2 linked regions of the Homo sapiens genome follow. The protein of the gene in region 1 purifies or fractionates together with the protein of each later gene. This does not show direct contact. Each region holds a gene or a part of one and is shown on either strand. Other genes may lie near its edges.

The links. Proteins that work in one complex are often made in the same cells at the same time.
Region 2: the proteins of NANOS2 (region 1) and MAP4K4 purify together in Homo sapiens (affinity purification with mass spectrometry; 2 studies listed by BioGRID and IntAct, with this or other methods). This does not show direct contact.

Annotation. Positions count from the first base shown.
Region 1 is NC_000019.10:45,912,896-45,916,838, forward strand, and holds NANOS2 (nanos homolog 2), read right to left. Parts: upstream 1,884-3,943; 5' UTR 1,799-1,883; coding exon 1,382-1,798; 3' UTR 319-1,381; downstream 1-318. UniProt on the Homo sapiens protein: Plays a key role in the sexual differentiation of germ cells by promoting the male fate but suppressing the female fate. Represses the female fate pathways by suppressing meiosis, which in turn results in the promotion of the male fate.
Region 2 is NC_000002.12:101,695,697-101,699,296, reverse strand, and holds the start of MAP4K4 (mitogen-activated protein kinase kinase kinase kinase 4), read right to left. Parts: upstream 1,591-3,600; 5' UTR 1,217-1,590; coding exon 1,160-1,216; intron 1,033-1,159; exon of another isoform or gene 855-1,032; coding exon of another isoform or gene 825-854; coding exon 759-824; intron 1-758.

The DNA.
Region 1 (3,943 bases):
GTCTATAATCCCAGCTACTCCGGAGGCTGAGAGGCAGGAGAATCGCTTGAACCCGAGAGGCAGAGGTTGCAGTGGGCCGAGATCGCGTCATTGCACTCCAGCCTGGGCGACAACAGCAAAACTCCGTCTCAAAAAAAAAAAAAAAAATTAGCCAGGCGTGGTGGGGCGCACCTGTAGTCCCAGCTATTCAAGAGGCTGAGGGAGGATAATCACTTGAATCCGGGCAGTGAGCCAAGATCGCACCACTGCACTCCAGCCTGGGCGACAGAGCAAGACCTTGTCTCACAAACAAACCAAAGACGGAAACAGATACAGCCATTTCAAAGACGACTAGAAAACCTTTTTATTCACCAGAGCTCAATACTCAGGGTCCCGACCCTGTGCCAAAAACTGAACAACTTAAAATCTGACGGGGGCCCTTCTTCTCTTTGCCCCTAAAATAAAAGCTAGGCCATTGCCATTCCCATCCGGGTACTCAAACCCCCTTCTTATCGGCGGTTCCTTGACTTGAACGTTGGAGGTTGAAAAACACAGGAGGAAAAAAAAATGTCCTTTAGTCAACTATCACGATTTGGGGGGTCGGACGGGAGGTGGTCGAGAGATATGCTTCTCGCTGGGGGAAAGGACCCATCGGTGATTTGGGGATGGGGGCAGGTACCGGGTGCAATGGGCTGAACAAGGGGAAGAACAACCAGGGGGCATTGAAAGGTGTCAGCTCACCCCACGGCTCTCCATCCACAGGTGAGCCTGCGAAGACACGGTGCCCTCCAGTGATACGGTGCTCTCCAGAGTCCTACTCCGCTCCTGACGGATGGGTACTGAGGTCAGGGAAGGAATGAACAGGCGTGGTCCACGATGACACCGTGGTTCTGCAGGAGGCTGAAGATGGAGAAGGCTGGTCTTAAGTCGACATCCCATCTTGAAGTTCTTGAGTAGGCACTTCTCAGCCAGCCTTGTTCAGTATCTCCTAAGGGCTGGCTTGGGACAGCACCGTGGAATCCTGGAGGTTCAAAAATCCAAGAACTCCACAAGGAACAGAGAAGTCGAAGGGGCAGGGCTCCAGTCACCAGCAGGCCCCACGAGGACAAAAGATCCATGAACCGGGGCCCAGAGGGCGCTACAGGGCCGTGCAGGAAGGGTTCCCGCGGCACCAAGGACCCTCAGGCCAACGCCCACAGGCCAGAGCTCCGAGGGCTGACAGGTCCAAGGGGGCGGGGCTGGCCTGGCTCCCAGCAGCCTCCACTGTTTCAGGATCCAGCCAGGGTGGAGTTCTGGGGGCCAGAAATTCCAAAGGGCTGGGTGACTGGAAGAGAGAGTTTAGGGACTTGGGTGGGATGGACCAGGAGGGTCAGGGGTGCGGGTGGTGAGCATCTCACGATGCTCAGCGCTTGACCCTGCGTCCGGCCGAGTTGCGCCCGCTGCGGCGGTAGAGGGACTGCTGGCCACCGTTAAGCGGGCAGTACTTGAGCGTATGGGCCTGGTCACCGGTGGCCCCGCACACGGGACACACGTAGTGCCTCAGGATGGGACACACCACCACGCCATCCGGTGTCTTCAGCTGGTGTGAGGAGTAGACGTGGCGGGACTCCCCGTTGTGCTTGCAGAAGTTGCACAGGGTCCCCAGGCCCCCGTTGGCCCCTGGCGCCCCCAGCCCCTGATCCTGCCCCAGCGGAGGCCCGGGACTTGGCTCCTCAATCTCTTGGGTCTCCAGCCTTTGACCCCGACTTGCGATCAGCGCCCACACCACCTGGCTCAGGTTGAAGTAGTCCTTCCACATGTCGAAGGGTGGCAGCTGCATGGCACCAAAGCAGGGGTGGTGGGCCACAGGAGAGGGGCTGGGGCTGGGGGCCCGTGGGCAAGGGCAAGAGCAGCAGGCGTTTCCCAGAGCAGAAGGGAGCTGCATCCCCTTTTATAACGCCCAGAGACTCTTCTAAGTAAAGGTGGAGCTTAGGATTTAAAGGGCTCACTCCCTGCCCATAACCCCCATCTGACTTTAGTTCTTCACAGAGATGTGGAAGGAGGTCATTCCCCTGATCTCTGGTCCCAGCTCTGCTGCCAAGGTGCTCTGTGACCTCTGGGAAGACACTTCCATTCTCTGTGCCTCAGTTTCCCTATCTGTTCAAAGAAAGTCCATGTCTGCAAATATCCCCCACCCCTAGGCTGGAGGGGCTGCACCCTTCATAGACTTCAGAGTTATTCCTAATCATCATAGCAGCCAGGCTGGGCGCAGTGCCTCACACCTGTAATCCTGGCACTTTGGGAGGCTGAGGAAAGAGGATCGCTTGAGCCCAGGACCTCTAGGCCAGCGTGGGCAAAATAGCGAGACCTTGTCTCTACAAAAAATAAAAAGACAAAAATAATAATAACAACATGACCTGATTTATTTTATTTATTTATTTACTTGAGACGGAGTCTTGCTATGTCGCCCAGGCTGGAGTGCAATGGCACGATCTCAGCTCACTGCAACCTCTGCCTCCTGGGTTCAAGTGATTCTCCTGCCTCAGCCTCCTGAGTAGCTGGGATTACAGGCGCCCACCACTAAGCCTGGCTAATTTTTTTTTTTTTTTTTTTTGTATTTTTAGCAGAGACAGGGTTTCACCATATTGGCCAGGCTGGTCTCGAACTCCTGACCTCAGGTGATCCACCTGTCTCTGCCTCCCAAAGCGCTGGGATTACAGGCGTGAGCCACCGCACCCGGCCTAGTATTTTCATTTTACAGAGAAAGATATGAAGCTTGGAGAGGTTAAGGAATGTATCCAAGGTCACACAACAAGGAAATGGCAGAGTCGGGTTTCATAATCACTCTGGGAACTGGGAATTGATGTTAAAAGTGGCAGAGGAACTTGGCACAGAACAATCTCACTTAGAATGCCCCCTCTTGGGCTAGGCATGCTGGCTCACGCCTGTAATCCTAATATTTTGGGAGGCTGAGGCTAGAGAATCACTTGAAGCCAGAAGTTTGAGACCAGCCTGGGTAACATAGTGAGACCCTGTTTCTACATATAATACAAAATCAGCTGGGCATGGTGGCATGTGCCTGTAATCCTAGCTAGTGAGGAGGCTGAGGCAGGAAGATCACTTGAGCCCAGGAGGTTTAGGCTTCAGTGAGCCATGATTGTGCCACTGCAGTCCAGCCTGGGCTACAGAGTGGACCCTGTCTTTTTTTTTATGAGATGGAGTCTTGCTCTGTCACCCAAGCTGTAGTGCAGTGGCACAATCTTGGCTTACTGCAATCTCCGCCTCCCAGGTTCAAGTGATTCTCCTGCCTCAGCCTCACAAGTAGTTGGGATTACAGGTGCCCACCACCACACCTGGCTAATTTTTTGTATTAGTAGAGATGGGATTTTGACATGTTGGACAAGCTGGTCTGGAACTCCTGACCTCAGGTGTGATTCACCTGCCTCGGTCTCCCAAAGTGCTGGGATTACAGGCATAAGCCACTGCGTCTGGCCAACCCTGTCTCTCTAAAAAAAAAAAAAAAATAGCCCTTTCTTGGCCCCATCCATTGTCTTAAATCCTTCCTGGCCTTTGGAACGAGCAAAAGCCTCATCTCCCGCCCACCGCACCTGGGGTTCTTCTTCCACCCACAGTCTCCATGGGCCACCTTGATATTCAACACATAGTTACTGAGGCTCCATATTGGGTGCTGGAAATTCAGCAGTGACCAAGGCTACCTTATGCCTGCTTCATGAACGAGTTCAGGAGAGCGACCAGTAAATGAGAAAACGCTAGACTGTAAAGACCTGCTGGCCTGTGAACCGGGTGTTCTAAGAGTGGCTGGCTCAGGAATGGGACTTGGAAGCTGAGACCACTAAGAAGAATCTTCCAGGAAGAGGAACACAGGATATGGAAACTGTGGCTGGGTGTGGTGGCTCATGCCTGTAATCCCAGCACTTTGAGAGGCCGAGGTGGGTGGGTCACCTGAGGTCAGGAGTTCGAGACC
Region 2 (3,600 bases), on another chromosome or scaffold:
AGTTTCATTTATCGCTGGGGTGGAGGGTGGGTGTTAAAATTTTGAAAAAAGAGAAAGACCTGGGTGGGTGTAAACCAGGGCATCCTCTATATTCTCTTCGCTCTCTGTCATTTCTGTTTCAATTACACAGCTGTCAAACAGGTTATTCCTGGAATTCAGATTTTATAATCCCCACACTGTAATTCTTCCTGCTGCTGTTGCCCAAACACACACTCCTCCCTGCTTCCCCAAAATACGTATCCATCAATAGAAAGGATGACAACCACAGTTATAAAGTATTCCCAGGTAACGCCAAACTCCCCACCTTGAGCAACTGGCAAGCACTGAGTGGAGGCTGAAACATGATGACAATTTTCACGATGGCCAAAGCAGTGGTTTAGGATCGTCAGAGGCAAGGCCCGCCTCCACTGTATTTCAATTTACACACAAACTCAGAAGGCCGGATTTGGGGAAAAAAAGAAAAAATTCAGGTTGTCTTATTTTTAAAAAATGCTTTTCCATTTTATCGAAGTAAAGTGCATGCCTAAGAGTGTAGCTTATTTCCTTATCTCAAAGCCAGGAAATGAGGTCTTTTAAGGCCAGTCTGAATATAAACTCGGTGTGCAAAAACAGAGGGACTGCAAGGCGAAAGAAACCCCTCTCCCAACTTTGGCCAAGCGGCGTGGCCTCCAGTCAGCAGCATGTTTATCACCCTCTCCTCGTCCCCCAATAAGAAGTTTCCACATGCCACGGGAAACAAAGAAGGCGCCCACACCGACCTTATAGACTTGTCCATAGGTGCCATTTCCAACCACTTCCACCAGCTCAAAAATCCCAGCAGGATCCTGGAGAGGAAGGAGGGGAGGGGTTATCATTTAAAAGAAGCCAAAAAAATGAATAAATCAAGCAAGGCAGTTGGAGAGAAAAGGCGGTGACAAAAGAGGTGGGCTTCGCCCCGCGCGGTCCCCCAGCGCCCGGGGGTCGCGCGGCGGGCTCGGGGCGTGGGGGCGGTAGAGGGTAGCGCCCGCCCCGCACCAGCCCGCACAGGAAGACAAAGGGGCCGCCGCGCCCCGCGGCTCTGCCCACGGCGGCGCCCGAGCGCCCGGCCGACCTGGGCGCGGCCCCGGCTGCCGGCTGCCGGCTGCCCGCTCCCCGCGCGCCCGCTCGCGGGCCCACTCACCCGCAGGGAGGAGAGGTCGATGTCCACCAGACTTTTTGCAGGGGAGTCGTTCGCCATTTTCCCTTTTTGCCACCAAAAAACAAATAACAATAAATGTCTCTGTCGCTCTGTGTATCTCAGCCGCAGACCAGGCCGCCGACCGCGCTCCTCGCGCGGCAGCCGAGCCGGCCCGGTACTCTCCTCGCGGGGCCGCGGGCGGCGGCGGCGGGCTCGGCTGCGCTCTCGGGCCGCTCGGGGCTCTCTGCCGGCCGGGCCGCGCGGAGGGCGGACGGAGCGTGCACGGGCGGCGGCGCTCACACCATGGCGCGGGGCCGGCCGTCAGGCCCCCGGGCGTCGCCCGCCGCCTCAGGCCCCGGCGCCCGCGCCCCGCGCCGCGCGCCTCGAGGACGGGCCCGGAGCGTGGGGCCGCGGCGGCGCCGAGTTGAGCGAGTGAGCGCGAGGCAGCGAGACAAAGATAACCCGGGAGGCGGAGGCGGAGGCGGGGAGCGAGGTGGGGAGGGAGGGGGCGGCGGCGGCGCTGGAGGAGGAGAAACGGGACACCAAAAATATATTCTGAGGAGAGAGAAAACAGCTCCCCCTTTCCTCCTCAGGCAGGAAAAACCGGCGGAAACGCACTCACACCCCGAGCCCTGCCGGGTAGGGCGCGGGCCGAGGCGCCCGCGCGGCGTGAATATTCATCAGGGGTGGGGCTCGAACAATGGCCGCGCCGGCGGGCAGCGCGGGCAGCGGTCCCGACACGACGCCCGGCGCCCAGGGTGCGGCCTCCGCGCTCGACCCCGCACGGCGCTCCCGAAAACTGCAGGAGCGGGGAGGAAGCGGGCTGGGATTTCCCCGGGGAGGAGCTGGGGTGGGGAAACGCCCCTACCTCGCGCTAACAACAAATGACACGAAACTGAGCTGGACCGACACTAAGAGGCCATGGACCCTCGCGTCTCCCAGGGCAAGGGTGTGTCCCGCCGGCCGCGTCCCGGCTCTAGAGGGACCCGAACCCGGTGTTGCCGAGCGGAGGAGGGGCCTCCCTCGATCCTCGCCCCCTCCTCGCCCCATTCGCCCCATCCCCCACTCTCCCACACCCTAGAGAGGAGACCCTTAAGTCCCTCGTTTCCGGCTTCCCTGCACGGTTTTCTTTTCCTTTCTCTGCTTTTGCAGGCTAAATGTGTGGTACGGTTGTGGTTGTAGTTGTGGGATTCGCTGAGCATCGCTGGGCTGCCCGGCCATATCCAAAACAGCTCCTGTAATTGTCTGGCGCTGCGCTCCTGGCTGCGCTCGGTAGGTGAGCACTGTGTTTGGGGCCCTTAGTACCAACCCGCATTTTGTAACCTGGAGATCACTAAGGATCAACCAACAGGTTTCTTCCGGCAACCTCGGAAGCCAGTCGGTAGTTAGGCACTTTAATGCCAGTGAATCAACAGTCATTTATATCGCATTCCTCCACCGTCCAAAAACTTTCAGTGGTTCCCTGTTACCTGACAGGTGTTCTCAAAACGTGAGTGCTTCAGGCAAAGTGCCAATTGCCTGGCCCTGCCTCCCGAGTTCTCGTTTCAGGAGGTCTGCAATGGGCCTGAGAATGTGCATGTGTAAGTTCTCAGTGTAGCTAACGTCGCTGTTACAGGGATCACTCGTTGACAACAGTGGCCTCCGGCTATTCATGATTGGATTTTCATAAACATCACCATCATCATCTACCAATTCTTATGCACATACTGTGTCTCCCCCACACAAACGCGTTGTGCCGAGTGCTTTACACACAGCACTCTATTTACAGCCTTGAAGGAATGTTATCCTCCTTTTAGGTAAGGAAAGCAAAGTACTGAAAGATAAGGAGTATGTCCAAATTCCTTAAAAGCACAGCCTGGAAGTGGAGCAGGGATTTTCACCAGGTTAGCCTGTTCCCAAAATCCAGATCTCTGATTCAGCCAAGTTAGCTCTACCCAGAATATGTATAGCACTATCCTGCTTCCCAACAGTTTGGTTTCTGAAATTTTTGACTATGAGAATCCCTGGTAAGGGTAAAATATATAGAGGGGCTCCTGGTATCCATTTGTAAGGAAAATTATAGTAACCAAGTATTCCTATGAATGTATTGGTGCTTTTAGATAATTTTGGTTTTTGTCAGCAGCAATGTCATTATCTATGAGTGTAAATAAAATAATTTACTCAGAGAACTAGACAGAAACACATCTGAACTTTCAGGCTATCTTACTATTGATAACATTGTTTTTTGTTTGTTTGTTTGTTTTGAGACAGAATCTTGCTCTGTCACCCAAGCTGGAGTGCAGTGGAGTGCTCTCAGCTCACTGCAACCTCTGCCTCCTGGGTTCCAGCAATTCTCCTGCCTCAGCCTCCCCAGTAGCTGGGACTACAGGTGCCTGCCACCATGCCCAGCTAATTTTTTATTTTTAGTAGAGACAGGGTTTCACCATGTTGGCCAGGCTGGTCTC